Linked DNA regions of Homo sapiens. The protein of the gene in region 1 purifies or fractionates together with the protein of each later gene. This does not show direct contact. Each region holds a gene or a part of one and is shown in the gene's direction. Other genes may lie near its edges. The genes, in order: PRCP, EPB41L5, PRG3, STK24, CLGN, SGPL1 and PPP1R2.

Region 1 (4,505 bases):
CAAGCTGGACCCAGCTGTCCTTCTATGTATATAAAGGATGTGGTTTTATGGAGTGGTCTCTAAGAAGGCTTAGCCCATGGTCTTATCCCTCCCCTGCTTAGAAATTCTTCATAACTCTGATTGCAGGATAAAGGCCAAACACCTTGGCATGGGAATCCATTGTTCCTTACTATGTAACCCTAGCTGGTCGTTCCAACTTTATATTCTGCCATAATTCCCCATCCCAGCTCCCACTTTTAGCAACCTAACAGACTCAAGTGACTTTTACTGTGTCAGAAATTCTGTCTGGAATACCATCCCTCTTCCCCACTATTTAAACTCATAATTCTATTCCAGCAGAAATGTCTCACCTCTTCTGCGAATCTTTGACTTCTTTAAGGAAATTTAGTTGGTCTTTTTTCATCCTGCACATTTACTATATTGTATGTGTCCCTCCAGCTCGTTAGTACTCTACAATACCTAGAAGAGCCTATAAAAAAGTATAAAGCACAAAATAAATAGTTGTTGAAAGAGTGAATGCATGATTATTCAAAAAGAACCTAAACAAAGCAAAGGCTACCATCATTTAATTGTCACAAATCATTTTTTATTTTTCTTTTTATCTTTTACTTTAATTCTTTACTAATTATTTTTTCCTCCTTTTTCAAGGTCTTCAAATATTGAGTTAGGTAGGACTATTTGATTTCTTTTACCTGAAATAACTGAATTAGGAGACCAGAGAGAGGATAGTACATCACTTGGGCACATCGAGGCTCTGGGTACATGTGTAGTATGTGTGGTATCAGTGTCATAAAGGGCTCTCTGGAATATGTGGCTTGTGGTTACAATGTTGCATGCTTATTACCTTGTACCTCCCACCTGAGCCCCTCAGGCTAGAATGTGAGTCCCAAATCACACATTTTAGTGTGTGATGTAGTGAAGAGGGAGAATGGGTCCTGTCAGGCCATCATTTTTCTCAGTGGTAAAATTGGGAGCAATATCTATTGTATTAGGGTGTGTGTCTGTGTGTTTCTCTCTCTATGAGAGAGATTTTTATTAAGGAATTGGCTCATGCAATTGTGGAGGCTTAGTAAGTCCAAAATCTTCAGGGTAGGTTGGAGGCTGGAAACCCAGGGAAGAGTTGCAGTTTGGATGCCCAGGCATTCTGCTGGCAGAATTTCTTCTTGCTTAGGGGAAGTCAGTCTTTTTTTTTTTTTTTTTTTTTTTTGAGTTGGAGTCTCGCTCTGTTGCCCAGGCTGGGGTGCAGTGGTGAGATCTCGGCTCACTGCAACATCTGCCTCCTGGGTTCAAGTGATTCCCCTGCCTTAGCCTCCCGAGTAGCTAGGATTACAGGTGCCCGCCACCACGCCTGGCTAATTTTTGCAGTTTTTAAAATACAGACAGGGTTTTACCATGTTGGCCAGGCTGGTCTTGAATTCCTGACCTCAAGTGATCCACCCACCTTGGCCTCCCAAAGTGAGGGGAAGTCAAACTTTGTTCTATTAAGGCCTTAAACTGATTAGATAAGGCCCACCCAAATTATGGAGGGTAAAGTCCACTGATTTAAAGTCCGCTGATATAAATGTTAATCTCATCCAAAAAATACCTTCACAAAAACATCTAGAATGATATTTGACTAAATAGCCGGGCACCATGGCCTATAAAGTTGGCATATAAAATTAATCATCACATCCACCAAGGTTGTTGTCAGAGTTCAGTGTCGTAACAAATGAAAGCCACATGGATGGTGCATAAAACATGGTAGGAGTTTAAACAACTTGATGGAACAAGTGCTAGTTCCTTCACAACTCTGTCCTGAAAATACACTCTCATCCAAATGCATGACAATAGTGGTAATGCCTCTTCTGAAAACTTAGTACCCAGCTATTCCTATTTAACTGCTGATCATTGTTTCTGTTACAAGTCTGTGTGTTGGCCCAGCATTGAGCTCATGGTCACTGACTTCTGCAGCTCCTTCCTCATTTGCTGTGAGGGGATCACATCAGTGGGCTAAGCTATTTAAATTTATGTACATCCTTTATAGTTCCACTTTCAATTGCTGTTCTAGGTTCCCCTTTCCCACCTTTGTCACAGTGGCCCTGATGTCTAGTAAAATGTTATGTCTAGCTATGTTAGGCACCTTGTAGGGCATGTTGATAAAGATCTTTCTCCTCCTCCTTTAAATTTTTCTTCCCCTTTCTCCTCTTCTTATCTGTTCATCTATTGATGGACTTTCCCTTAGGCCTGGAGTGTCCTGTCAGAAATATTGTGTGAATTCAGAACTGATTTATGTGTTTGGTGACACAGAATCATTTTTAGAAGGGGCCTTAGAGATCATGTAGCCTTCCCCTTAGATATGATGGATTGACCTTGATCTAAATTATAGAGGGTCAGAAACTTGATAGAGCTTGAACAGGAGGGTGGTTAAAAGCACAGCTTTTAGTGCTGGGTGTGGTGGCTCACACCTGTAATCCTAGCATTTTGAGAGGCTAGGAGGATCACTTGAGGGCAGGAGCTAGAGACCAGGTTGGGCAACATAGTGAGACCCTGTCTCTACAAAAAACAAAAAACAACTACAACAAAACCTAAAGCATACCATTTAGAGGCAAACAGGTTTGAGAGCAAGTTCTGTTTCTGCCACTACCTGAGTAAGTTACTCAGAGGCAGCCCCTATTTTCATAATCAGCAAAATGGAGATAATTATATTACCTATACCATAAGTTTGTTGTAAAAAGAGGTGGTATGTGTAAAGTGCATATTTAGCACAGTGCATAACAGTTAGTAAACAATAAATGATAAACATTATTTTTATCTTGCAGTTTCCTAATGTACATGGCTTTAATTAACCCCTTCACTTTTTTAAAATCAATAGGATTAAAATAATCAATACTTTAATAGATTTGTGGCCTAGGAATTAACCTTTTTTCTTGCTTAAAATCATTCTTTTCACACAAGATTCTGTACATAAAAAGAAGCATATGAAACTATTTCTATTTTTCTTTCTATGCTATTTTAAGTGTTGATAAAGTGTTGGGGGGAAATATGGTAATGAATTTACCCTTTTAGGTTTTTGGAAGTACCTTCTTCTCTTGATAACAATAGTAAATCTAACACTGTCTTTCTGATAGCTGAGTTTTAAATTTCTTACTAGCTAATGCTAAAATCTAATTTCAATAAAAATTAACTTTAGGTTTTTCACTGACTTGTTTATATTCCTCTGTCAGCATACTGCAGGAACTTTGTGCTTTAGAGAATTTAGACTTTTAAAACATTTTCAAAGTTTGGGTTCTAGGATCAGCCCTGCCACTAAATCACATCATACTTTTGGGCAAGTTGCCTAACCCTCTAGATCTCATTGTACTAATTTGTAAGATAAATGGATTGGATCTGCTGATCTCTGATTTACCTATAATTTTGTTCACTGAGTGCCTCCTGTTTATAGGGCACTGCGTTAGGAACAGTGGGAATGTGGGTACAAGTTTTGTTTTTTGCCATAACATTAATTGCCTTTGATGAATTGGACCTAAACAACTTTACTATCTTGACTTTGAATAAGACACAGACCCATAACATATAAAGTGTTTTTAAATTAAAAAGTAATCACCTCTTCAATTGGTACAATATTTATAATATTGCATAGTTGATTTATATTATAATATAATAAAACATTGTGTTTATGATTTTAAAGTTTGCTTGGTTGTGGGTCTATTGCAGAAGAAAGGAGAATCATAGGTAAGGAGAATACCTTGATGGTAGATCTTATTTGTCTTCATTTCTAGTGCCTTGGATGGTACTTCTTTTTATTTTTTTATATGGTTCTGACAGGATATGGTACTTCTTAATAAAGATATTATGAATTGAAAAAATTGACCATAAATTAAAATGAATAAGGAGTAAGAGATGAAAGTAAAATTACATATGTAGTGTAAATGTGTCTAATGCATTATTAATGATAGTAATTTACTACCATTTATTGAAAGCTTCAAATACCGTAAATATTATCCTAAGTACTTAATAGACATTCACTTAATTAATCCCTATTACTGTTCTATGAGGTAGATGCTATTATTCCATTTTGTAGGCAAGAGAACTATCCTTTTTGTTTGTTTATTTTTAGACAGGATCTTGCTCTGTCACTCAGGCTGGAGTGAAGCCATGTGATCATAGCTCACTAGAGCCTTGAACCTATGGGCTCAAGTGATCCTCCCACCTCAGCATCCCGGGTAGCTGGGACTACAGGTGTACACCACAATGCCTGGCTAATTTTTTAATCTTTTTGTAGAGATGGGATCTCGTTATGTTGCCCAGGCTGGTCTTGAACTCTTGTCCTCAAGCAATTCTCTTACCTTGGTCTCCCAAAGTGCTAGGATTACAGGCAGGAGCCATCAAACTCGGCGAGCAAGAGAACTATCATATAGAGAGGTTAAATTATTATACTGAGCTATACTACTTATCTGTACCATTTTGTTTTTCTGAAATTAAACTCTGATTAATTTCTAGTGCTGAAATGAATGCCATTAGCTTGC
Region 2 (4,505 bases), on another chromosome or scaffold:
ACTGGCTAGCCATATGCAGAAAACTGAACCTGGACCCTTCCTTACACCTTATACAGAAATTAACTCAAGATGGATTAAAGACTTAAACGTGTAAAACCTAAAACCATAAAAACCCTAGAAGAAAACCTAGGCAGTACCATGCAGGACATAGGCATGGGCAAAAACTTCAAACTAAAACACCAAAAGCAGTGGCCACAAAAGCCAGAATTGACAAATGGGATCTAATTAAACTAAAGAGCTTCTGCACAGTAAAAGAAACTATCATCAGAGCGAACAGGCAATGTACAAAATGTACAATGTACAGAAAATTTTTGCAATGTATCCATCTGGCAAAGAGCTAATATCCAGAATGTATAAGAAACTTAAACAAATTTTCCAGAAAAAAACAACCCCATCAAAAAGTGGGTGAAGGATATGAACAGACACTTCTCAAAAGCAGACATTTATATGGCCAGCAAACACATGAAAAAAAGCGCATCATCACTGGTTATTAGAGAAATGCAAATCAAAACCACAATGAGATACCATCTCACACCAGTTAGAATGGCCATTATTAAAAAGTCAGGAAACAACAGGTGCTGGAGAGGATGTGGAGAAATAGGAATGCTTTTTTTGGTGGGGGTGTAAATTGGTTCAACCATTGTGGAAGACAGTGTGGTGATTTCCTCAAAGATCTAGAACCAGAAATATCATTTGACCCAGCAATCCCATTACTGCGTATATACCCAAAGGATTATAAGTCATTCTACTATAAAGACACATGCACACATATGTTTATTGCAGCACTGTTCACAATAGCAAAGACTTGGAACCAACCCAAATGCCCATCAATGATAGACTGGATAAGGAAAATGTAGCACATATACACCATGGAATACTATGCAGCCATAAAATAGGATGAGTTCATGTCCTTTGCAGGGACATAGATGAAGCTGGAAACCATCATTCTTAGCAAACTAACACAGGAACAGAAAACCAAACACTGCATGTTCTTCCTCATAAGTGGGAGTTGAACAATGGTAACACATGGACACAGGGAGGGGAACATCACATACTGGCGCCTGTTGGGAGGGTGAGGGACTAGGGGAGGGATACCATTAGGAGAAATATCTAATGTAGATGATGTGTTGATGGGTGCAGCAAACCACCATGGCATGTGTATACTTACGTAACAAACCTGCACGTTCTGCACATGTATCCCAGAACTTAAAGTATTTAAAAAAAAAAAAAGTCATCTGTCAGGTTTTAGGTCGTTTTTGTTCACGTGTGTCATAAGCTTGCTATGGTGGATATTGGCTAGATACTCTTCCTTCTCACCTCTTTTCTCATTCACTTGGGTTTTTCTCTTGTGAAGTATTTCCTTGCGGTTATCAGTGTAGGCACAATGAAAAGTAACTTTTAGTAATTCATTCAAATTTTAAAGTTCTGTCATCTGCTTAACTAAATTTTTGTTTTTGTTTTTCAGCATTGGTTGGATGGTACAAAAAGCATCAAAAAGCAAGTAAAAAGTAAGTGCAGACAAAATTATTTGTGGGGGGGAAAGGAAATAGAATATATTAGAAATTCTGATTTCTAATAGGATGTAAGAAATCATGTTTCAGATGAGTTTTTTAGCATTTCCATTTTCTAGAAATTATTTTATTCTGATACACTGAGCTACTCCCCAAGTCATGTAGGCTTGATACTAATCTAGATTAAACTGCATTGGGGCTTAACTTTCCAGGAGAAAACCTTGCAGCTTGCAAATGGGATTGACTTTCCCCGAAATGCTTAATGGTTATTTTTTAATTAGTTGTGTTGGAATTTTCCTGTTTGGCATCTGCCCTAATATTGAAAGTATTTTGAGACTTTGTGATATTTTAAAATTAAGAAAAATGAAACAATTCACATAAAATGTTAGTGTCATTCAGAGAGAGAATACCATTGTTTATTCATTATCCAACTTGACTTTTTATCAGACTTATTAGGGCACCTCAACTCTTGTCTCAAAATAATGAGACCACTGAGATTATAGAAGTTAGTGAACTTGCTGAATTGTATTTGTGTGGGAAGATTCACCATGAGCAGTTAATAACATAGGCATTCTTCAGTGTAGCAGGTTTTCAGGGCTGTTAGGTTGCACAGTCAAGACTTTTATTTGATGCATTTGGCTCTGAACTGTTAGAATTAATCTATAGCTGTCTATTCTTGGGATGAGAGTTAATAGTAATATGATGGCTTGGTACATTAAAAAACAATCTAATTGAAGCCTATGATCTAACCTGCAATAATGCCATAAAAACCTCATCTTTTGTCTCACTTCAGTAGATTTTTGACCAGTTTTCTGGCTGAAAAGTATTATTTAAGTAGTTTATTTTATTAAAACCTTTTTTTTTTTTAAATGACAGTTGGTTCACCCTATTGTCTGCATCTTCGAGTTAAGTTTTATTCCTCAGAACCAAATAACCTTCGTGAGGAGCTAACCCGGTAAGAACACCATCTAGAATTGTGCCAGGGTTATTTTGATAGTTTTGAAAGACTGTCTTTATATTGTTTCCAATTTATAGCCAGCTAATAAAATGGATTCCTGTCCCCTGGTAACAAGACCTCAAATAATAGAATTTTATTCTGGGACGTGTTTTTTAAGTGTATGATTCTTTTCCTTTAGCATTTTCAAAATAAAGAGTTGGTTTCTTAGCATCCTCCAAAGGTGACTAGTGAGTTCTTTTTTTTAAGTATCACTCTCAACTCAGGAATGTTAACAGGATTCACATGTTTCAATACATTGCAATATTATATTTATTGATGTTGAAAATAATCTATCTTTGGCCACAGGGAGTTTATTCAAATTGGCGCCCAACTTTCTTTACTCATTGAAATGCCATTGATTAATGAAAAACATTAGATTCTGATTGGTTTGAATAGTTTTGAATAAACCTTATGTTGTATATACTTATTTTAATGTTATCCTGCCTCCTTTGTATTTATTCATGGTCTCTATTATAAATTCATTGCTCCATATACACATACTATTTATTAAATGAAAAAGTTGAGCTTTTGAGTTCCTTTAGAAGGGTTTCCTTTAGAACACCTTGACAATGAGATAGTAGCTATCATCTGTAGTTATATCCATGTCTGTATCCCTTCACATAACAAGTAGATGTCTCGCTCTGTCATCTAGGCTGGAGTGCAATGGCATGTTCTCAGTTCACCGCAACCTCTGTTCCCCCAGGTTCAAGCAGTTCTCATGCCTCAGCCTCCCAAATAGCTGGGATTACAGGCACGTGCTCACACCCCCAGCCAATTTGCGTATTTTAATAGAGACGGGGTTTCGCCATGTTGGCCAGGCTGGTCTTGAACTCCTGGCCTCAAGTGATCCACCCGCCTCGCCCTCCCAAAGTGCTAGGATTATAGGTGTGAGCCACTGCACCAGGCCTTTAATTAAGAATACTTCTAAGATCTAGTGTTAGATCAGTAGGGTGATTATAGTTTACAATTACGTATTTTACATTTCAGAATAGCTAGAAGAAAATAATTCAAATATTTCTAGCATAAAGAAGAGAAAAATATTTAAGGTGATGGATACCCCACGTATACTGACTTGATCCTTACAAATTATATGAATGTATTCAATTATTTCATGTATCCCCAAACTATGCACATCTTTTATACATTAATACAAGTAATTTTTAATGAAATAATACTTCTCAAGTTAGAAGTGTAAGATTTTTTTTCACAGTCGATTGTGCTGTTGGGTTAAATTTGTGCCTTTCATTTTTCTTAGGTATTTATTTGTTCTTCAGTTAAAACAAGATATTCTCAGTGGAAAGTGAGTATTAGTTATTTAAGGATAAATGCACATTTTCGTGAGTGGTTGAAAAATTATTTTGAAAATAAGTTTATAGTTGTAAAAAAGAAATGGTCAACATAAAACATGTATTATTTTCATTTGTCTTAAAATGAAGGTTATGAAATCAACTTGTCTAACAAACTTGTGTTTTGGTCTCAGATTAGACTGTCCCTTTGATACAGCAGTGCAATTGGCAGCTTATAATCTGCAAGGTAAGCAATTCTTATGTTGACTGTTAAGACTCAAGTATAATCTTTTTTGTGTGTGTTTTTAGTTAAAGAAGATTCTAATTATGTGCAAGAAAAGAAACAACACTGTTTTTGTATAAACTTGTATCAGGGTCCAACTCTGACTTTTACTTGTTTTAGAACATTGCCTTCTTTTTCTTCTCTTTCATGTAATTGCGCCCTTTCCACCTAAAGTGTTGAAACGTCATACTCTACCTGATAAGTCTGTAAATGCTAAGATTGGGCCTTCGGCTAACTTTTTCCTTAAAAGAAATGCAGTTATGTAGGAGTGAATTGTTGGTGAAGCCATATAGCTTAGCAGTCCTTTTGCTCCAAACCTACATTTTGTTCAGAAATAACCACAGATGAGTACATACATGTTTGTGCATTGTTCAGATTTTTCCCTGCTGCTTTCTCCCCCCGATTTTTTTTAGTTCCTTTCAGTTATT
Region 3 (4,992 bases), about 26 Mb from region 1:
ATGCTGCCTGTTTGCCAGCCCTGAAGCTATGCCTTGAGGTTGGGCAAGGTGGCATATCCTAGATCAGAGATCCTCAACTGGGGCCATTTTTCTCCCCAGAGGACATTTGGAAACATGTGGAGACATTTTTGATCATCTGCGGGGGTGGGGAGAGGGGCTACTGACATCTGGTGAGTAGAGACCAGAGGGACCATTAAACTTTCTACAACGCCCAGGACAGCCCCTCCACAATAAAGAGTTATTTGACCTCACATATTAATAGCACAAAGTTGAGGAACCTTGATCTAGATCCACAGCACAGAAGAAAGGATGTAGATTTTTCACACATTAAAGATGAGAAAGCTTGTGCCTGTAATCCCTGTGACTCAGGAGGCTGTGGCAGGAGGATTACTTGAGCCCAGGAATTCAGGGTTACAGTGAACTATCATCGCAGCACTGCACTCCAGCCTGGGTGACAGAGCAAGATTTTGTCTCTTAAAAAAAAAAAAGATGAGGACAGGCACAGTGGCTCATGCCTGTAATCCCAGCATTTTGGGAGGCCGAAGTGGGTGGATCACGAGGTCAGGAGTTCAAGACCAGCCTGGCCAGCATAGTGAAACCCCATCTCTACTAAAAATACAAAAAATTAGCCAGCTACTTGGGAGGCTGAGGCAGGAGAAGCGCTTGAACCCGGGAGGTGGAGCTTGCAGTGAGCCAAAATCTTGCCATTGCACTCCAGCCTGGGCGACAGAGCAAGACTCCGTCTCAAAAAGAAAAAAAAAAAAGATGAGAAAGAGGAAGGGAGAGAAAAAAGAGAGAGAGGAAAGAAAGAGAGAAGGTTTTGGAGTCAAAAAGACTTAGAAATTCCAGTTCTTCCACTTCCCATGGAACCTTGGCAAGTTGCCTTCTCTCTTTCTCTGAATCTCACATTTTGCCTCTGTGAAGTAGGGGTGGTACCTGGTGGAGATGATGCGGAGATGAGGGTGAGGGGTGTGTTGCACACTATGCCCCTAGGATGGGTGAGAGCTTGGGAGCACTGAACCTCCCTTTCCCCTCTTGTTTCTTCCCCCCATTGTCTCCCACCAGCTCCCTGGGATCTCCACTTCACTCTCTGGGATTCCACCAGCAGGAGGCTACTCCTGGAGTTAAGGCGTGTTGTTCAGACTGGGGCATTTTAGGGGGCATAAATAATAATTATGCCTGGACAATGGACATAACATCTAGGGCCTTCTGAAGCAAACCAGGGTGTGGGGTACCCAAACAAGGCAGTAGGCCCCAGGAGGCAGGTCCCTGCAGTCCCAGCAGAGAGCAGGGCACAGGGTTGAGAAGACTGAGCAAACTTCATTATCAGCTCCTTTGTCCCCCACTCTGTCCTGGAGCAATCATTCTGGCCTCTTCCCACTTCCCCAAAAACCCAGTATAAAGGCTGCTTCTGGCCCCTGAAGCCAGAGGCACTGAGAGTGGAGGTCTCAGACTCTTGGAAGGTGAGTTCTTTTCTGGCTGCCCAGGCAGGACCAGTGTAGGCCCTGGGAAGAAGCAGCACCTCATAGGGCAAACACGTAGGAGGCCTGTCCTTAGGAACATCATAGCTAAGCAGACCTGTCCCCGCAGGGGCAGGAGTCTGGGCTAAGGGTGATACTGGAGAGCAGCAACGGAGACTGGAAGACAAATGAAATTTGGTACCTGAGTTATCCCTCCCACCATTCCTTTTCTAGACTCTCCAGCTCAGGGTCTGTTCATGGCAAGAGGAGAAAGCAATCTTGTTTGCTCTTTAATCAAACAATTAAACAAATATTCCCTCTATACTATGTGCCAGGGGCTATACTAGACACACAAAGACAGCCCCAAGAAGGACGGTGGAGTAGTGTCCTCGCTAAAAGACAGTAGATATGCAATGCCTCTTGCTCCTGCCCTTTCTCCTGCTGGGAACAGTTTCTGCTCTTCATCTGGGTAAGTCTCTCCCTTCCCTCCTCATGCGTCTTTCCCTTTTTTCCTTTTTCCTACACTCCCCTCCCCCCGCTTTTATTTGCACTCATGAGGCCAGGACCACAGCCTTCCCTCTTTAGCTGATACAGCTCATCTCCGGTAAGATATCACTTGGACTCAGAACTGTAACCTGGAACTTTCTCTTTTTTGTTTGATTTTTTTTTGTTGTTGTTGTTTTTGTTTTTTTTTTTGTTTGTTTTTTGTTTTGTTTTGAGACGGAGTCTCGCTCTGTTGCCCAGGCTGGAGTGCAGTGGCGCGATCTCGGCTCACCACAAACTCCGCCTCCCGGGTTCAAGCAATTCTTCTGCCTCAGCCTCCTGAGTAGCTGGGACTACAGGCACATGCCACCACGCCTGGCTAATCTTTGTATTTTTAGTAGAGATGGGGTTTCACCATATTTGCCAGGCTGGTCTCAAACTCCTAACCTTGTGATTCGCCCGCCCCGGCCTCCCAAAGTGCTGGGATTACAGGCGTGAGCCACCGCACCCGGCAAACTGTAACCTGAACTTTCAGAAGGAAAAACCACCCACCTGTTAAGATGAAGGGCTGGTGACTGCCCCAGGCTTCTCACACGTGCTTTCTCCCACCTTCAAAACACACACTCGTGGTGTCGGCCAGAAGTCAGGTTCTTGTCCATTTGTGGGTGTGACCCGAGAGATCTCTCCTTACCTAACACCAAGGAAATCCTCCAGTCTTGTCTTCAGGTGGAATTCCTAGGAAAGCTCGAGCGACGTTGCTGGAGCTGTCCACGGTGCTGGAACTAGGAAGCTCTTGACCTGATGGCAGGTTACCTCTTCTTCCCAGAGAATGATGCCCCCCATCTGGAGAGCCTAGAGACACAGGCAGACCTAGGCCAGGATCTGGATAGTTCAAAGGAGCAGGAGAGAGACTTGGCTCTGACGGAGGAGGTGATTCAGGCAGAGGGAGAGGAGGTCAAGGCTTCTGCCTGTCAAGACAACTTTGAGGATGAGGAAGCCATGGAGTCGGACCCAGCTGCCTTAGACAAGGACTTCCAGTGCCCCAGGGAAGAAGACATTGTTGAAGTGCAGGGAAGTCCAAGGTGCAAGATCTGCCGCTACCTATTGGTGCGGACTCCTAAAACTTTTGCAGAAGCTCAGGTAAGTAGTAGGGAGGCTACTGCGGAGGACCTGGGGGAAAAGAGAGTACATTCAGTCTTCTGTTCCCTATTCATTTAGGCTAGTGGTTCTCAAAGCCTCGCATGCATCAGAATCACCTGGAGTTGTTGTTAAAACACAGCTTTCTGGGCCTCACCTGCACGACTTCTGATTTAGGAGGGCTGAGGTGAAGCCTGAGAATTTGCATTTACAACAAATCCCCAGGTGATGATGATATTGTTGGTCTGGGGAGAACCACCGATTTAAACAAAAGGCTTTGGTGTTAGAAACGCCTGTGTTAAATTCTGGTTCTGCCTTTTATTAGCTGTGTTACCTGGGCAAGTTGCTTTGCCTTTCAAAGCTTTAGCACCTTCATTTGTAAAACGAAGATATATAGCACCAACTTCTTAGAGTTGTGGTGAGCATTAAATGAGATAATACATGAAAAGTGTTTGGAATAGTCACTGGGCTGTAATAAACTCTCAATAAGCGGTGGTTATAATTATTATGAGTATTATCATTTCCTGTAGGATTGTCCTGACAGCTAATTAAGAAGCAAAAGATAGGATTAAGGGAGGCAAGTAGGTTTATTTTTAACCTGAAAAGGGATGCCGGGCTCTTGCCTGGAGACTCAGAAACTTGAAATAAATGAGAGGGAATTCTCTACTTTGTTTCCGTCTGCAGAATGTCTGCAGCAGATGCTACGGAGGCAACCTTGTCTCTATCCATGACTTCAACTTCAACTATCGCATTCAGTGCTGCACTAGCACAGTCAACCAAGCCCAGGTCTGGATTGGAGGCAACCTCAGGGGCTGGGTAAGTCAGGGGCCAAATCTTGGGTGCAGTAAGTTCTTTCTGAATGTGTTAAAGTAGCATCTGATGGTGCCAAGCCTCAGGCCAGCAGCTAAGGTTTCCTTAATGTGGCAGGCAATGATGTGCTGGAGATGGCTTGTACTGGCTCAGGAGAACTGATGGTGCACATCTCTTACCAACTCCATGCTCAGTGACTACATGCTTGCAGCTTGACATCAGCCATGGTGGGAGTATTTACACAAAGGAAATAGGCAATTGCTACACATCAGGGCTCCTTTCTACTCCCCATCCTCCCACCCACCCCAAGAGCTGGTATAAACATTTACCAGCATACCACTGGAGTCATGAGACAGAGTCCAGGCCCAGCTTAGTCACTTAGAAAGCTAGTTAAATAGGTTTCTTGGAGCCTCTGTTTTTTTTCAATCCCTGAAATGGGGACCTTCTTCTCTCAGGGTGGTTCTGGAATTGTGGGTGAATAAGTGGCATTATATTTGGTACGGTCCATAGATCAGCAGTATGGTCCATAGATCAGCAGTACCACCATCCCCTGGGAGCTTGTTAGAACTGCAGAATCTTGGACCCCACCACAGACCTCTTGAATCAGAACCTCCATTTTAACAAGATCCCCAGGAGATAACGTACGCACAGTAAAGTTTGAGAAGCCTGCTCTGTGTGATGGCTGAGAGAGATGGTTGCTCTTCCTGTCATTGCCTGGAAACTCTTAGGAATGGCTCTCTAGGGTGTCTGGCTCCTGGCCAGGTAGGCAGTGAGAGAAGTCAACAGGGGGTATTCCATGAGGTCCTGGATCTGAACTTCTGCCCTCTGACCTAGCCTGTCACTTCTCTAGTTCCTGTGGAAGCGGTTTTGCTGGACTGATGGGAGCCACTGGAATTTTGCTTACTGGTCCCCAGGGCAACCTGGGAATGGGCAAGGCTCCTGTGTGGCCCTATGCACCAAAGGTGAGGGGGAAGGGCACCAGGGCAGGGAGAAGGGATAGTAAAGTGGATTCTTAATACTACCCCTTTGAGCTGCCTGAACACACCTCCCCAAACTCAGACCCTCCCGCTGACTGAAGAACAAAAGTCCTGTGTGTAAGGAG
Region 4 (4,505 bases), on another chromosome or scaffold:
TTGTCCCATGGGAGTTGGCCCCGTGGGATTTCCAGGCTGTGCTCCTGCGGCCCTGCCATTGGCCGCTGGAATAGGGTCAGTCAGGCAGTTAGGGAAAGTGCATGGACTTTTTCATTCTCCTGAGGCTGTTTATTTTTTTACTGGGCCCATGAAGCAACTTTGACATAATTATTCAGGACATATCCTAAACGCCGTCATATCCTGGATTTTCCAGGTAACCAATTGCTAAACTCACAGGCATCTTTCCCAATGTATTTTTAAGAATGATATTTGCTACCCTAGAGTTCAGAGTGTTTATTGTGTATTATTTCATACAATACTTGTAGAAGCCCAGTAGAAGGATTATATCCCCATGCTTACAGATGAGGACATTGAGGAGACGGGTGTTGGCGTCCCTGCTTTCCTTCAGGGAGCACAGGTCAGGTTGCTCCCTGAAGTCAGTGATGGGTCCAGCACGTTCCACACGGCAAGGGGACAGGCCCTCTCCCAGGGCGGCCCTTCTGCCGCCTTTGCTCCTTCTTTGAGACTTAGGGGCGGGGCATGGGCAGGAGGGAGAGTGCTGGATTGTAGCTGACCCTCTCGGGACTTGTAAATACTGTCAAGTGATTGGGAGTCCTAGACAAACACGAGTGGCCGCCTCGGGGCCGGCGGCGTGGCCCTGTGACAGCAAGAACTTCAGGAACAAATGCTCTCTACACCCACTGGCCCTCCAAGGTCAGACCCTTCTAGTTCCTGCCTGCCCCTTCAGTAGCGAAGAGAGAAGCCGTTGCTCTTAGGGCAGGGCTGGGTTTGGAAATGACAGCATGTGTTCAACAACCTGAAAACCAAGCTGAATGTCGCCTGAGATGTTTCTTTCTTCCCTGAAGAGGAGGCGGTGTCCATCACAAAGAGCCTCTTCTGTTGAGTTCTGAGCCATGCTGTATCTTGACTTGAACAGCTCTTATTTTCACAGTTCACGTTTTTGGGCCTCCAGAGAGAGACTTGGAGTTGACCTTCAACTGAGGGAAGTGTCTGAAGGCACTGTTGTGATTTCTCTTGGGAGTAGAGGTGCCAGGAAGAACACTGGAGATTCCCAGAATTTAAGGCTGCCACTTATTTACATGAAATCAAATATTTTGACTCTACTCTGGATCACAAAGGCAGTTTGCTGGAGTTTAAGAACCAACCCATTAACATTAGGAAGTAAGCAGTGTTGAGATCAGAATAACTTAGGATAGGCTTTGAAATTGCTTTTCTGGTACAAGGTTATGGTTGAAATAGGAAAACAGCACAGAGAGGACAGTCCATCACGGTGAGACTTGGGAAAGGCACACAGAGAGCTAGTCGTCTCTGTTCTGGCCTCGAACAGTAATGATTATGGTCTGATGATTGCCCTGTGTATACATAACTGCTCTCAGAGCATTTGAATCACCTTTCTTCAAAAGGAACCCGGGCCGGGCACAGTGGCTCACGCCTGTAATCCCAACACTTTGAGAGGCCGAGGCGGGCGGATCACTTGAGGTCAGGAGTTCAAGACCAGCCTGGCCAACATGGTGAAATCCTGTCTCTATTAAAAATACAAAAACTAGCTGGGCATGGAGGCAGGGGCCTGTAATCCCAGCTACTCGGGAGGCTGAGGCAGGAGAATCGCTGGAACCCAGGAGGCGGAGGTTGCAGTGAGCTGAGATCACGCCACTGTACTCCAGCCTGAGCAACAAAGCCAGACTCCGTCTCACAAAAAAAAAAAAAAAAAAAAGCAATTTGAAGTGGCCTGGAGCCCTAGCCAAAGCTTTTCCCGGACACCCTGGGGCTGGGGTAGTGTCGTGGTCCACACGCCGTGTTGTTCCTTGAACAGCATGCTTCCCAGTTTTGCAGCTGGTGTGCTTCATGCCATTCTTCCTGTTCGTGTGTTTTCAGTTGAAGGAGAAGAGCCAGGCGTGCGGAGGGAACTTGGGGTCCATTGAAGAGCTGCGAGGGGCCATCTACCTAGCGGAGGAGGCGTGCCCTGGCATCTCCGACACCATGGTGGCCCAGCTCGTGCAGCGGCTCCAGAGGTAACTACCCAGGGCCCCTCTGGGCTGGGGAAGGAGAGACCTGCACTTGGGCTGGGACTTAGTTGATGAGTTTGGTACTTGATTCTTGGCCTGTCTGTTCCTGTTATCTTGCAGGCCTCAGGGTAGACAGAGTTGAATTAGAGGAGACTTTGTTCTGAATTCTAGAAATCAATGTGAATGAAGGATCTGAATCTGGAAACTACTGGAAAGCCCACAGGACTTAGTGCATTTGTAGCTTTTGCCACATAAATACAGGGTGGTGGTGAAATACCTGTTTCCTCTTAATTATGCAGCTTAATTATTGGCCAGAGAATGATCGTTCTTAGCCAGATGTGTGTAACTATCTATCTGGTTTTCGGCTTTAAAGTCAAGTGTGAGAAATGACAGCAGCTTTGGTGTGGTCAACTCAGCGGGAGCGGGCGCAGGTGTGTTCCCTGTGTTAGCTGTGTGTGTCATGTCTGGAAGCCTCCTTGGTAGGGGTTCATCTGTGCCAGCCTGTAGGGAGCTTTTGTCCCTGCCCAGTGGCCCCACCTGTTGAATGCACTATGGGTGAGGACTCAGTGGGGTGACAGTTTTGCCCTCCCTGCCCCCTCCCAACTTGTTGTAGGAGTATCCATGGGAACCAAGCCCCTCCTGACTGCCATCTGGCACAAGTGCAGGCGTTTGGAGGCAGTGGATGTGTGCTGGGAAGCCGCTCTGTGTGACCTGAGGGTGATTTGTCACTGGGCTGTCCTCCACACCCCCAGGAGGACCAGGCGTGCTGCTGCCTTGACAGTTCATCTTCAGGTGTCCAGGCTGACACCTCCCAAAGCTGGCTGAGACTCTGTGATCATGAGGGGGATTTCTGGGTCTTTCCTGAGACTGCGTCCCACCTGACAGTACATAAAGAAGTTTTGCACACGTGAGGTCCCTTTTGCTATTTGGAAGTGATTGAAGGGGCTGCCTACTGTCCTGTGAAGAGCCCCTCTACGTGGGGACAGCAGGAGAAAACCACAGTTCTGATACTTCACGTTTATGCTTCTGAACTCGGGTTTCTTAGTAAGACATTTCAACTTTTTAAGTTGCTAGAAAATAAAAATGATCTACTTGGCTGCCTTCAATTTTGAGGCAATTGAAGGACGATCCCTCCCTCCTTTGATACTAAAAACAATATAGGAATAAAGGAAAATAGAATTAAAAAGTCACCCATCTTTTGCCTGAACACAAACTTTTTGATTTCTCAAACTTAGCATCACATACCTCATTCTAGAGGCATTTATTTCCCATTAGAAAGAGCTTTATAATAAAACAAATAGAACAAAACCAGAAACGGGTAGGATTGTTACTGTCTTGTTGGGCATTTTGCTCTCTGCTTTTGTAGTATTACTTTTAAAACCAATACTTTCCACACTGTCCAGAATTGCCTGAAATTGTTATGAACTGTTTGTTTATATACGTGACTTGATTTCCCCAGGGCAGCTCCAGGGCACAGAGTGTGTGGCTTGTATGTGTTGAACTGATCCACGTTTCCCATTCCCAGGCCCCTATCTCTCTGTTCCTCTTCTTTTAGTTGTTAAGGCAAGTTGATCTGTACCAGTGCTGGCCAGTAGAAGTACAGCGTGGGCCACACACAGAATTTTATGTTTTCTGCTGGATGTGGTGGCTCATGCCTGTAATCCCAATGCTTTGGGAGGCCCAGGCAGGAGGATCGCTTGAGGCCAAGAGTTTGAGACCAGCCTGGGCAAAATAGCAAGACCCTGTCTCTACCAAAAAAAAAAAATTTAGCTAGGCATGGTGGCTTGTACCTGTGGCCCTAGCTACTTGGGAGGCTGAGGCTGCAGAATTGTTCGAGCTGAGGAGTTCGCGGCTATGGCTGTGATCACGTTTGCACTCCAGGCTGGGCAACAGAGTGAGAACCTGTCTCTAAAAACCAAACAAAAAGAGAATTTTACATTTTCTAGTAGCCATATTTTTAAAAAGCAAAAAGAAGTGAAATTAGTTTCAACAATACATTTTTTAACCTGCCAGATCCAAAGTATTATTTCAACATTAATAACAACAATCATCAATAAGGTATTTTACATTTTTGGAGGGACCGTCTTTGGAGTTGGTGTGTGTTTTACACTTAGCACATCTCCATTCAGACGCAGCACATTTTACGTGCTCACTGGGCATCGTGGCTGGGGTTGACCCTATTTACCCTCGGGCGGGTCTGTAGCTACCTGATGTCTGTGTTGTGTTTAAAACTTTACTTTGCAGTGATGCATGGGGGAAGCCAAGTTGGTGCTCTCTTTCCTTTGTCTGTGATGAGGAGTGCCCTCTTTCCTCCTCTGTCCTCAGATGAGCTGCCTCTTGAGGTGCTTATCATCTCTCTGCAGGCTTGGCTGTGGTACCCACTTCTTCCTTCCCTGCTCCTGAAGCTCCCACTGAGCGTTCACCCCGATGGCTGCCAAAACCACGGTGGCCATGGCTTAGACTTCCTGCCAGTTTTGC
Region 5 (4,505 bases), on another chromosome or scaffold:
ATACATATATATATATATATGTATATATATATGCTCCAGCCAGGCATGGTGGCTCATGCCTGTAATCCCAGCACTTTGGGGGGCTGAGGTGGGTGGATCACCTGACGTTAGGAGTTCAAGACCAACCTGGCCAACATAGTGAAACCCCATCTCTACTAAAAATACAAAAACTTAGCCAGGCGTGGTGGCAGGTGCCTGTAATCCCAGCTACTCTGGAGGCTGAGGCAGGAGAATTGCTTGAACCCGGAAGGCAGAGGTTGCAGTGAGCTGAGGTCGCACTATTGCACTCCAGCCTGGGAAACAAGAACAAGACTCCACCTCAAGAAAAAAATAATAATAATGGAGCTCCTCGAACAGTCTTGACACATAGTAAGCATGCAATATATATTTGTTGATGAATGACTGAGTTTTTAAGTAACAAAAGCAAGGTCTAATACATTATGTATAGAATGCTATCATTCGTATTAAAAAAAAGAATGTATACGTGTGTGCATGTATGCATAGAGCACAACAGGGAATATGTACCAAAAATTGGCAAGTTAGCAAAAGATTTAGGTGGGTAGTAGATGAGGACAAATAACAGGCACAAACAAAAGGGAGGGAAATAATTTTATGGTACCTTCTTAGTGTTGTAACATGCATTTTTAAACTTTCTGAATAATTAGTAATATAAAACGTTGTATTTACAGGGATGAAAGTGAACCTGCCCAAATAGAAGATTCAAGTGTTGTTAAACCTGCTGGCTGGCTTGATGATGAACCAAAATTTATCCCTGATCCTAATGCTGAAAAACCTGATGACTGGTAAGCACTCTTCATCTTCAAATGTCGATTTCAAATGTTTCTTACATGCATTTTTGTTACTAGTTTATATGACTGATCTGAGACTTGAGGTTACTGTATTTGCTTTGTTTTAATATCCTAAGGAATGAAGACACGGATGGAGAATGGGAGGCACCTCAGATTCTTAATCCAGCATGTCGGATTGGGTGTGGTGAGTGGAAACCTCCCATGATAGATAACCCAAAATACAAAGGAGTATGGAGACCTCCACTGGTCGATAATCCTAACTATCAGGTAACAACCGCTTGTTCCAATTATTTAGTGAAGTTAAAAATGTTGTGATCTTTTCTATTTAAATATCTAATTACCTATGTCAACTTTTGGAAGTTTCATTTTTAATTTTAAGATGTCAAAGAAAATAGACCTCAACTAATTTATATTTTAAAAGTAGAGCATCAATTATTTAATTTTCTGGGGAAATAAATCACTTCATACTATATTCTTCCCTAATTATCAGTTGATGCTCACTTTGAAATAAAGTTCTATTTTAGAAGTAAATATAAGAAGTGAATTTTGATCAAATAGACTCATATTGTACATTTTAGTAATTAATGCCTGTGCTTAATTAATGTACTTATTATTTAGTATTATTAAAATTCTGATTTTTGGCCAGGTACGGTGGCTCATGCCTGTAATCCCAGCACTTTGGGAGTCCAAGGCGGGCGGATCACGAGGTCAGGAGATGGAGACCACCCTGGTCAACATGGTGAAACCCTGTCTCCACTAAAAATACAAAAAATTAGCCAGATGTGGTGGCGCACGCCTGTAGTCCCAGCTACTCAGGAGGCTGAGGCAGGGGAATCTCTTGGACCCTGGAGGTGGAGATCGCAGTGAGCTGAGATCGTGCCACTGCACTCCCGCCTGGCGACACAGCAAGACTCAAAACAAAAAAACAAAAAAACAAAAAACCTGGCCTGGCGTGATCTTGGCTCACTGCAGCCTCTGCCTCCTGGGCTCAGGCGATTCTCCTGATTCACCCTCCTACGTAGCTGAGATTACAGGCACACCCCAGCACGCCCGGCTAACTTTTGTATTTTTAGCGGAGACGGGGTTTCACATGTTGGTCAGGCTGGTCTCGAACTCCTGACCGTGATCCGCCCACCTTGGCCTCCCAAAGTGCTCAGGTTACAGAAGTAAGCCACCGAACCCAGCCCTGATTTTTTTCTGATATCAATCGACATCTTTTGAGTGTACCTAGCTTTTTATATTAAAAGTTTCTATGTTATCCACTTAACCCTCTAGTTTTATCTTTGTAATTATTTATGGATACGTTCTAACATTATATATATGCAGTTTCATATTCTAATTACTCACTGTAGTTTTTATTAAAAGCATTTAACACAAAATGTTTCTTTTGGTAAATTTTTTTGTTTGATGTCTGTCTCTTTTATTTGACTTTAAACTCCATAATACAGGAACCATGTATGTCTCCATCATCTGGCATAGTGCCTGGCCCAGAATACATACATGTGATGGTGGAGTGAGTCAGTGAGCAATGATATTGTTGAATGTATTTGATTTAATGGACAGTTTAATCATTTAAGATCTAATGGAAGTTTTAGGTTGAGTAGTTGTGCCGAGATTCAACCATACCTGATTAATGATATCTGTCATGGGTATATGTTAAATGGAGTAACTCCATTTTTGCTATACAATGATCTTTCTGATTTGGACAACTTGAATAACATTTTGCAATGAATAACTTTACTAAATCTAAAAATTTGTCCAAAGTAGACAAATTGTGAAATTTATTCACGTTTCTGTTTATGTTGGATTTTCCCTTTTCCTTTTCTTGCAGAATTTAAAGTTAGTATCACTCGTAGGGAACATTGTGTACACAGCAAAAGAAACAAGATTTTATATCCAGTATATTACTAATGAATTAATATCAGTTAAAATTCTCTTTTTTCCAGTTAGCATTGCGAATTTCATTCAACAGCAGCTACTTATTAAGCAGCATTTATAATGAAGTTATTTTATTTGAAAATGTCTTCAATTACTTTTCTTCCAGGGAATCTGGAGTCCTCGAAAAATTCCTAATCCAGATTATTTCGAAGATGATCATCCATTTCTTCTGACTTCTTTCAGTGCTCTTGGTTTAGAGCTTTGGTCTATGACCTCTGATATCTACTTTGATAATTTTATTATCTGTTCGGAAAAGGAAGTAGCAGATCACTGGGCTGCAGATGGTTGGAGATGGAAAATAATGATAGCAAATGCTAATAAGGTATGGTGTTGACCAATAGCAGTAGTGATATAACTATGAATAATAATACTTGGTCTTGGTTGTAGGTTATTCAGATGGCTCTTTTAAATGCAAATAAATGTGCAGTAACTACTAAATGCCAAGGAAATGTGTTTGAATAAGTTTATGTAGACAGAATATTTTGCTTTTTATGTTACTTCATTATGAGCTATATATGCATATGTAAGTCCTCATTTTATTCATTAAATTATAACATCACTAATGGGATTTAATGCTTATTTACTGTTCATAGAAGAAGACTACTTAATATCTTTGTCATCTTGCCAGTTCAAGACCTAAGTGACAATGATAATCTAAATATTACTGTTTATTTAACTATTTTTTACTTAGAGGAATGTACAAAGAATTTATAGTTTAACATTATTAAATTCTGTTCCAGTTTTTTCCCGAAACCTTAACACTGTTTAGAAAAGGTTGGGCTAAATATTTCAACACAATGCATCTTAGAAAATGTATCATTAAATTCAGTTGCTATAAAGAAAAATTCTTACCTTACATTTGGTTCCTTGGGTCACTAGCGAAAAACCATCAAAAGAGTAGGTGAAGAGGGATTCTTGTTTTGAACCTCTTGTAACTAAAACATTTGATTTTTTAAATTTTATTTTAATAAGAGAAATAATATCCTTACTGAGGGTCTTATGTGTGAAATGTGTTTATATAAAAAAGAAAACAATTCTGAGGTATGATTTTTAGTAAGTTCTTTAAAAGTACAGAATGAATGATCAGAGTACAGAATGAATGATCACTTCAAATAAACCAGGTAATACATCCATAAAAGGTAGTTCTATTCTGAAATTTACCAAAAAGGAAAATTACCATTTTTCTTGCCAGTATGTTAGAAGTTTCCACTTTTGTCATAACATACCTTCTGCTATCAAGTCTCACTCAGTGATGCATGCTAATAATTAAATTAGACTTTACAAAGTATAAGGTGGGAAAATGAAACTTCTTTTACTTACGAGTTCATCACTCCTTAATGTAAAATGCCTGAGTAAATAAGTTTTTTTGTATCTTGTGTTACCCAGTAAAGGTTTGTAAAATTTGAATTGCATTTTTATGCTTATCTCGTCTATAGCCTGGTGTATTAAAACAGTTAATGGCAGCTGCTGAAGGGCACCCATGGCTTTGGTTGATTTATCTTGTGACAGCAGGAGTGCCAATAGCATTAATTACTTCATTTTGTTGGCCAAGAAAAGTAAAGGTAAAGAAAATGGATTTCCTTCAACTTTTTTCACCCAAATTTCTTGTTGTTTAAGAGTTCTATAAATTAAGCGATTCTTAAAAGTAATAAACTAAATGTCTCATAAGTTTTACTGATAGTTCATTATGTATGTTATCAATTATTGCAAAAAAACTTTCAAAATAGCACTCTGCCTTTAGTAAAAATAACTTATGTT
Region 6 (4,505 bases), on another chromosome or scaffold:
TCACTGTGGTTTAGATTGGCTTAAATTAATACCATTGTCATTATGATAGTGATTATTTTTATGCCTCACATTTGTGTAGAGGAGTTTTCTAGTTTCAGTGTTCTGTCAGAATCCCATTTGAGCTTTATGACATTCCAGAGAGGTTGATGAAGCTGTTATATTATTGTAGTTCACAGATAAGGAACAGACTGAAGTAGCATACTCAGGGTTTCACTGCTGGTACGTTGTGGGGCTGGGGCTCACATTTGGCTCTTTGGCCTCTTAGCTCAATATTATTTTCGCCCCCACAGCGATTCTGTTCTTATTTTGTGCTCTCAGACTATTCTCCAAATGGACTTACCTGGAGTCACCTGTGTCCTGTCACCGTGGTGGGATGCAGTCTTCTCCCAGTTGGAGTGGTGAAGGAGGGGGTACTGGTGGAACTGGAACTCTAAGCTAGCAGCCCAAATTGCTCTTGGCAGCAGAAGAGAAGAGTAATTGTGACATAGATTCTCATTTTCCTTTAAACTTTAAATCCCTAGGCAATGAGAAGAGCTATCTCCAGGAACACTGCCATGCTCGTCTGTTCTACCCCACAGTTTCCTCATGGTGTAATAGATCCTGTCCCTGAAGTGGCCAAGGTATATGAGAGAAATGGGCTGCTAAGGCAGGCAAATGGATATTTTAAAACAAAGCCTAATGGGGCAGTACTTGGCAAATAGAAGCGATTTTTTTTTTGTTTTTGACCACAGTAGTGATAAGTAGCTCTCATCAGCCCTAGGGGAAGCCCTGCAGCTCAGTTGCAAGCCTTTAAAAGTTGCTAGTCTCTGCTGTGGGGGAAGATAGTACAAGGCTGAGGCCTTTTAAACTGGAAATTCTGAAATAGGATTGCCTTCTAGATTGAGATCTGGAAATAATCTGCATGTAGGAATGTGCCCACCAAAAGGGTGATATTCCACATGCTGCCCCTCAGCGCCTCCCTTTCCCTCACGCCTCATCCTGCAGTGACTGAGGCAGGACCTTTCCCTTGTGCGAGAGGCAGCCTAAATCAGAGCTCTACTCATTTCCTGCTTGATACCGCAGAGCGTTTGAGGTCATGCATATTTAAATATAAAATTGATACCATATTTCAGATGAATTATTTTGAAGGGAAAATACATTTGAAAGATAAATTTTGTTGGGAATGTTAAAAATAGCCATTTTTTAAAAACATGGGAGGCATAATACAAAATAGCCTTGTGTTTATAGCCCATCTTTCCACCCATGTCTTGCAGTTTTTATTATAGGGCTATAAAGGAAATTCTCTTATGTTCTTTGTTTTTTGGAACAAGCTGGCTGTCAAATACAAAATACCCCTTCATGTCGACGCTTGTCTGGGAGGCTTCCTCATCGTCTTTATGGAGAAAGCAGGATACCCACTGGAGCACCCATTTGATTTCCGGGTGAAAGGTGTAACCAGCATTTCAGCTGACACCCATAAGGTGAGCTAAGGAGGAGATCAAGTGTTACCAGTTGATTATTTTGACTATTATTGATAAAATAAATTGGTAGCTTCCCCGCAAAGTATAAAATTAACTATAGAATTCTCATCAGATGCTTGTTTTAAACTCTCTCTTTGCCGTCACCAGATCAGCTGGTTCAGGTGATGGGGTATAGTGGTAGAGGTGACAAGCAGTAGTGAAAATGAACCTGTTACCTTTATCTCAAATTGGCTAAGAGAATTTCTGTATCCACTGACTGTGTGTAACTAGAACATGCTAGTGTAGTGGCCCTTGTTAAAAAAGCTCCCTGAAGCCTTGAGCTGATTTGAGGTGGAGGGTAGAGGAGTGTGAGGGTTGGTAGTGGAGTTCCCATGCTGGTAGATAACATTAGAGCTGCTGTGCAACTGGGCTCCTGAGCGTACATGACGGGAAAATGTTGACGGAAGAGTCCTTTGGAAAATGGGAAGAACCTGTGTGCTCAGGAACATTCAGCATTTGAGATGGCCACGCCTGCCACCCTTGGTGGACTGAGACAAAGTCTAGATCAGTTGATAACGCTATTGAATATACATCCAGATGTGGAAGAAGTATTAGCAGCCTCAGGAATGTGTACCTTGTTTTGATTGCATTTTCAGAGCTTGTTTTAAACTCAAGTATATTAAAGACTTGTTTTTCAAAATCGGTGTGATCTGCAGCCGATTTTCAGTCAGCATCTGTTTTTTCCTTACCATCCAGATAGCTCCTGTGTCCTTTTCCCATAACCATCCATTTCTGGATGGTTCAGGTAATGAAATTAGTTCCACGTTAGTTTTAATAAGAGTTAATTAGGGGGTCAGATGTTCTATAAGGAAACCAGTTACATAGTTAATTTTAAAGCTGGATTAAGTAGCTTTTAGTTTCTGAGCACCATTATGTTCTCATAAGCATAATATTCTTAGTAATACTAAGCAAAAAAAGATGGGAAGGGGGTCAGATGGTGATTTTAACTTGAAGTGACAAATTCCATCCTTTCCTGGCTTCCATTGCAAACTTACCCTTGCTTTCATCCTGACATATGGTCTCCAGAGAAATATTTTAAATAAGGTAAACCACATGCTGGGCAAGAGAGGGAGTAAACCGATTAACTGGGCGCTGTTCTTCCCTGGGTCTCAGATTCCTCATTCCTAACAGAGAGAATTTAAACTCCATCCCTTAAGTTCCTACTATCCTTTAGCATTTTAAGTTTGAATCCTTAATGTGAGTGGGAAACATAACAGAGAAACTGAGAAATAAATAGGATTTCCTTTGCATGATGAGAGTTCTGGGACAAGGTCTGCCAGACAGAACTATACTCTCACTTTTCTTGTCTGCTACTTCTTCCACAGTATGGCTATGCCCCAAAAGGCTCATCATTGGTGTTGTATAGTGACAAGAAGTACAGGAACTATCAGTTCTTCGTCGATACAGATTGGCAGGGTGGCATCTATGCTTCCCCAACCATCGCAGGCTCACGGCCTGGTGGCATTAGCGCAGCCTGTTGGGCTGCCTTGATGCACTTCGGTGAGAACGGCTATGTTGAAGCTACCAAACAGATCATCAAAACTGCTCGCTTCCTCAAGTCAGAGTATGTGTGGAAGACTGGGGTTCTGCCTTGTCTATTGCTTTTTTGTCCTAGTAGGCTCAAGGCACCTGCCTGGCTAAGTATCCATAGCCCTAGCCCACCTGTTGTCTCCTGCGATATAGAGGGCTTAGGGCAGCAGCTTAGGGCTTAGGCCAGACCAGCTGGCCTGGGAGAAGAAGCTCCCTTTCTCTGCCCTGACTTTTGGAGGGTCTTTGAGACGGGGGCCTCATTTGTAGTTTATCTCATCTCTATGGATGTCTTAATAACTGGCAGCTCTTACCCTAAGGCTAATGTACAATTTAATGGTTAGGACAGTGATTCCCAAACTTGAGCATGCATTCTAATCACCTGAAGGACTTGTTAAAACACAGGTAGCTGGGCCCACCCCTAGAGTTTCTGATTCAGTGGAACTGGGATGGGCTCTAAAAATTTCCATTTCTGGAGATACTGATGCTACTGCTCCAGGAATCATACTTGAAGAATCATTGGAATAAGAAAATAATTGGAAATGGGCCAGAAGGAATGAGGAAAGGAGGGCAATGAAATCTTGGGTTAAGCCAAGGCCAGAACAGGCTGCATGCTTTGTCTAATGTATCTGTTAACATCTTATCTGCCCATCTCTCTATGTGTCACTTGGATTGGGGAGGCTCTTTAAGTATATTGAGGGGGAAGGAAAGCTGCCTGCAGGCATTTCTCATTTGAGAAAGATCCTTGGCCAGGCACGGTGGCTCCGGCCTGTAATCCCAGCACTTTGGGAGGCCAAGGCAAAAGGATCGCTTCAGCTCAGGAATTAAAGACCAACCGGAGCAACATAGTGAGACATTATCTCTACAACAAATTTAAAAATTAGCCATGAGGCCGGGCGCGGTGACTCATCCCTGTAATCCCAGCACTTTGGGAGGCTGAGGCGGGTGGATCACCTGAGGTCCAGAGTTCAAGACCAGCCTGACCAACAGGGAGAACCCCGTCTCTACTAAAAATACAAAATTAGCCGGGCGTGGTGGCGCATGCCTGTAATCCCAGCTACTCAGGAGGCTGAGGCAGGAGAATTGCTTGAACCCGGGAGGCAGAGGTTGCGGTGAGTTGAGATGGCACCATTGCACTCAAGCCTGGGCAACAAGAACGAAACTCCATCTCAAAAATAAAAAATAAATAAAAATAAAAATTAGCCACATGTGGTGGTGTGCACCTTTGGTCCCAGCTACACAGGAGGCTTAAGGCAAGAGGACTGCTTGAACAGCCCAGGAATTTGAGGTTACAGTGAGCTATGATCACACCACTGCACTCTAGCCTGGGTGACAGAGCAAGACCCTGTCTCAAATAAATAAGCAAACAAATAAATAAAAATTAGATATATATAAAAGGTCCTCCTATAGCTCTGATAGGGCCATTTATTAAGACCTGCTATACCATTTCTTGCTTTAGGGATTACATATGACTTTTTA
Region 7 (3,704 bases), on another chromosome or scaffold:
CCTCCCTTCCCCCTTTCCTCCCCCATTCACACAATTCATTGGAGAAAATGACATGTTTGGACTCTTAGGTGATATTTTATAGCTTTCAGGTAATAAATATGTATCTTTTTATAGCTCTGGATATTGGAGTTGTCGTAAACTCTTACCTTTCCACCTGTGACTTACAGAAATGTTCAATCTGAAACCTGTTTGTTTTATCAGCAAGTAGACACTTCTGTTCTTTAGACTATTTAGGGGAGTGTATAGATTCTTCAATTTCAGTCTAAATCAGCCTACATGAAATATACCTTATTTGTTTTTAAAATTTTTATATTTGCTTGTCATGCATGCTAATAGAAGGGAACTTTAGCCAGGGTTGACAACATATAACAAATTATGTTGACTTTTTCTTTTATCTTTGCAGGATCTACTCCAAGTGACCAACAGCAAAACAAATTACGAAGTTCATAGACGAGATTTGTTCAACACTGCAATTGTTTGTTAGATGTAAACCCTGTGACTATAGTACGTTGCTTCTTGTTCTTCACAATTCATGACTTAAGTACCAAAATGCATACCAGTTATTATATATTGCCAAGAATTAAATGATAAACTTAGAGACTGATTAGACTGAAAATGCCTAATCGATATATATATTCTTGTGCCTAGTACTTTACCACAAATACAGTGTAATATCATCAGTCCAAAACTGCATTACTTTTGTAAAAACACTGGTTAATTTGTATAAGATATTATAGAGCTTTTTATGCTTTAGAAGTTAAACAATATCTTTGGGGGGGAACTAATTTATTTTCATCACTTGAAATGTGGTAGCTCTTACAAAGTTTATTGATTTGATTTTTTTAAAAATCAAAAGCCAATTGAACAACAGGATATATAGACTGATAAATATTTAGGCTGAATAGTATTTTAACACTTGTCTTCAACTTGATTTGTCTGTTTAATTGAAAAGAATTATAAGAGTTACTGTTGCATTTTCTGACCTACTATTTTTAAAATTCCTGTTGAGTTTCTTTGTGTTTACAAGGAAAGGACTGAACTTTTTCTCATCAAAACTAGCTTTTTTCCCCACAAATAAATTATCAGGTTAAACTTTCACCAATGTCTGCTCTGTTTTTTGTTTTTGGGGGGTTTTTGTTTGTTTTTGTTTTTTAATGTTTTTGGTACACTGGGCAGACTTCAGAGCAGTTTTTTAAAAAAATAAATATTCTAATGTAGCTATCTCGCCATTCCCTTTAAATACCTGTCTTAACCTCCTGCTTTTCTTTCCTACTCCTTTCCACACATACGCACACAATCTTCTACCTTTTAAAGGATCATTAAGACTGTCACCACATTAGGAGCTCTTTCTCTCACTCTTCTGTCATTTGCTGCTATGTTGAAATTCTTATTTTGACCATCAATGCCTATGAATTCTTCTAATACGTGAAGAAAATAGTTTGAGTAGCAGCAGTGCTATAGGTGGGAAATACAGTTTAGCTGCTGAATTTCTATACCTCTCTGATTTACAGATTGCTAATTAAATGGCTATTATTAGTTTGGATTAATTAGACTTAAGAAAACAACTAACTGAGGGTTTTTTTTGTTTGTTTTTTGAGGGTTTTCTTTGCATGAGAATTGTATGTAACCAGTGATATGATTATTCCTGAATGTACAGACAGAAGTAAGCCTGGACATTGTTAAATAGTCCCTGCTTTAAGGGACTACGATAATGTGTACTATGACAAACGTGCTTTATTCTTCTAACGCAGTAAGAATTAGGTGGAATTTTTTCCTTCAACCAAGTGCAGGAAAGCCCTGTGTGTCTTGGTTTAGTTATGGTTTCATTTCTAGCCATACAATTGATGAATTGTGTACAACTTTTGTTAGTACCAAAATAATCTGTTATATGAACAGACTTCTAAAATAACGTCTGTATATTTTATATATAGATACATATATGAAAGAAGGCTTTTATTGAACAGCTTATCTTCCACTTGCAGGTTTATGGAAACAGCAGTATTTGAAAATAAATAAAAAGTGGGAGAATTCCTTGCTGTTAGAAGAATGTGGCCATTATTTTGATTTTTTGAATGAGATATATAATCAAAGTACTGCTGAACTGTGAGTGCAGTATTCTAAACATTTCAGCTAGGAATACCACTGATTTAGAAACAAAACTGTTTGTCTCTGGTTTCTGAATTTAAAATGTTGGGATTACCTGTTTAAATCTGTCTTGGGGGATGTAGAGATTAAGTCTGTACATGTGCGTGCACATATATTCATGCACCCTCTGATTTTGGTTTTCTTGTTTCTGAGTTCTTAGAAAGTACCCACATACTCTTTTTTTTTTTTTGTAGAAGTAGCTGTCATAGAGTGAAGAAAAGGATAAGACTTTAAACAGTTGATTCTTTTTGTGTTTTCTACAAACTATTTTTTGAAATTTAAATCACAAACTCATTTTCTGGTTTTTAGAAAGTAGATGATGATTTCAGAGGAGTAAGGCATGCCAAGCAGCATGCTCAGTGGGGTTTTAGGCTGTCACATGCAGCTGAGAAAAGGTATGTTCAAGTCATAAGTAGGTAATTGATAGGGTATGAACTAGTCAAAATATGAACCATTATGATTCAAGTTAGATTTTCCTCTGGAGAGACAGATCTGAATGTTCAGTTCTAGCCAAGGTAGATTTTACTTTCAACTTTTTAATCAGTATCACTTTCTGTGCTTAACTATTTGGTGTTACCTTGTCTGTTTTCATTTGTCTAAAATTCTGCAGAGATGACTAAAATTTGACATAATGGTGTAAATGGATTGTTAAGGTAACTTTCAGTTGAAGATTAAAGCAAGATGCCATTTTCCCCATGACTTTGGTTTTGTTTACATTTTTCCCTTTCAGTTAGTATACACTACACGTACTGTAATAAAATACAATAATATGACAATTGCCTGTGTGTGGATTTTATTTTATTGTTACTTAGCTATCTCAAGACCATAATCCATCGACCACTTGCCCTGGATACCAGGAGTGGATCATGGATTACGCTGTGGCCGAGTAGTTTCCTCAGTCTTAGTAGCATTGTGCTCAGTCCCTTACATCTAACCCTCAAAACCACCACACAAAGGCAAGCATTCTTATCTACACTTTGTAAGTGAGGAAAGTGCTCTTGGTCAACTTATTTATTAATCATTTCAGTGCCTCACACATGCTAAATGATAGGATTTAAATCCAAACCTAACTAAATTTCATGGTCTTTATTCATACATTTTTTGATGTAGAAAACATTTTAGAAATTGTACCTTACAAATAAATGTATATGGATTATTGATCCATAACTATGCTTTAGGAGTAGCATTTTTCAGGTGTTTGAGCTTCTGGGGTTTTTTAAAATCTGAAAAATTGGAAATAACTTAATTTTGTTTGCAGTTTGTGTGCCATCTAGGAAAAATCGCTCAAAAGCACAAATAGCCAGTGGCTGGAGATGAATGCATGTCATTTGGTTGTGTTTTGCAAGTTTGTTTCTTAGCAGGCTGTTTCAAGCTCAGAACGTGATTTTTTTCATACAATCCATCTTAACAAGTCAAGGACCGTGTCAGCCTATAAAAGCCAACATGTACCCAACACAGGATTGCCCAGTGTGTTCCATGAAACCCTTATCCCACACCATGCTCCGTGAAAATGAGGCAATAAACAAGCCTCGCACATACTGTGTACTTTATTCCCCAGC

The links.
Region 2: the proteins of PRCP (region 1) and EPB41L5 purify together in Homo sapiens (co-immunoprecipitation; one large-scale study listed by IntAct). This does not show direct contact.
Region 3: the proteins of PRCP (region 1) and PRG3 purify together in Homo sapiens (co-immunoprecipitation; one large-scale study listed by IntAct). This does not show direct contact.
Region 4: the proteins of PRCP (region 1) and STK24 fractionate together in Homo sapiens (co-fractionation; one large-scale study listed by BioGRID). This does not show direct contact.
Region 5: the proteins of PRCP (region 1) and CLGN purify together in Homo sapiens (co-immunoprecipitation; one large-scale study listed by IntAct). This does not show direct contact.
Region 6: the proteins of PRCP (region 1) and SGPL1 fractionate together in Homo sapiens (co-fractionation; one large-scale study listed by BioGRID). This does not show direct contact.
Region 7: the proteins of PRCP (region 1) and PPP1R2 fractionate together in Homo sapiens (co-fractionation; one large-scale study listed by BioGRID). This does not show direct contact.

What each region holds. Positions count from the first base shown.
Region 1 is NC_000011.10:82,893,381-82,897,885, reverse strand, and holds part of PRCP (lysosomal Pro-X carboxypeptidase isoform 1 preproprotein), read left to right. Parts: intron 1-4,505. UniProt on the Homo sapiens protein: Cleaves C-terminal amino acids linked to proline in peptides such as angiotensin II, III and des-Arg9-bradykinin. This cleavage occurs at acidic pH, but enzymatic activity is retained with some substrates at neutral pH.
Region 2 is NC_000002.12:120,071,713-120,076,217, forward strand, and holds part of EPB41L5 (band 4.1-like protein 5), read left to right. Parts: intron 1-1,465; coding exon 1,466-1,508; intron 1,509-2,387; coding exon 2,388-2,466; intron 2,467-3,763; coding exon 3,764-3,808; intron 3,809-3,988; coding exon 3,989-4,041; intron 4,042-4,505. UniProt on the Homo sapiens protein: Plays a role in the formation and organization of tight junctions during the establishment of polarity in epithelial cells.
Region 3 is NC_000011.10:57,377,585-57,382,576, reverse strand, and holds the start of PRG3 (proteoglycan 3 precursor), read left to right. Parts: upstream 1-1,426; 5' UTR 1,427-1,463; intron 1,464-1,795; 5' UTR 1,796-1,868; coding exon 1,869-1,929; intron 1,930-2,769; coding exon 2,770-3,083; intron 3,084-3,764; coding exon 3,765-3,896; intron 3,897-4,740; coding exon 4,741-4,852; intron 4,853-4,992. UniProt on the Homo sapiens protein: Possesses similar cytotoxic and cytostimulatory activities to PRG2/MBP. In vitro, stimulates neutrophil superoxide production and IL8 release, and histamine and leukotriene C4 release from basophils.
Region 4 is NC_000013.11:98,454,696-98,459,200, reverse strand, and holds part of STK24 (serine/threonine-protein kinase 24 isoform b precursor), read left to right. Parts: intron 1-1,896; coding exon 1,897-2,033; intron 2,034-4,024; exon of another isoform or gene 4,025-4,505. UniProt on the Homo sapiens protein: Serine/threonine-protein kinase that acts on both serine and threonine residues and promotes apoptosis in response to stress stimuli and caspase activation.
Region 5 is NC_000004.12:140,392,390-140,396,894, reverse strand, and holds part of CLGN (calmegin precursor), read left to right. Parts: intron 1-689; coding exon 690-803; intron 804-925; coding exon 926-1,076; intron 1,077-2,853; coding exon 2,854-3,069; intron 3,070-4,183; coding exon 4,184-4,309; intron 4,310-4,505. UniProt on the Homo sapiens protein: Functions during spermatogenesis as a chaperone for a range of client proteins that are important for sperm adhesion onto the egg zona pellucida and for subsequent penetration of the zona pellucida.
Region 6 is NC_000010.11:70,870,527-70,875,031, forward strand, and holds part of SGPL1 (sphingosine-1-phosphate lyase 1), read left to right. Parts: intron 1-521; coding exon 522-620; intron 621-1,310; coding exon 1,311-1,460; intron 1,461-2,824; coding exon 2,825-3,063; intron 3,064-4,505. UniProt on the Homo sapiens protein: Cleaves phosphorylated sphingoid bases (PSBs), such as sphingosine-1-phosphate, into fatty aldehydes and phosphoethanolamine. Elevates stress-induced ceramide production and apoptosis.
Region 7 is NC_000003.12:195,513,642-195,517,345, reverse strand, and holds the end of PPP1R2 (protein phosphatase inhibitor 2), read left to right. Parts: intron 1-403; coding exon 404-450; 3' UTR 451-2,918; downstream 2,919-3,704. UniProt on the Homo sapiens protein: Inhibitor of protein-phosphatase 1.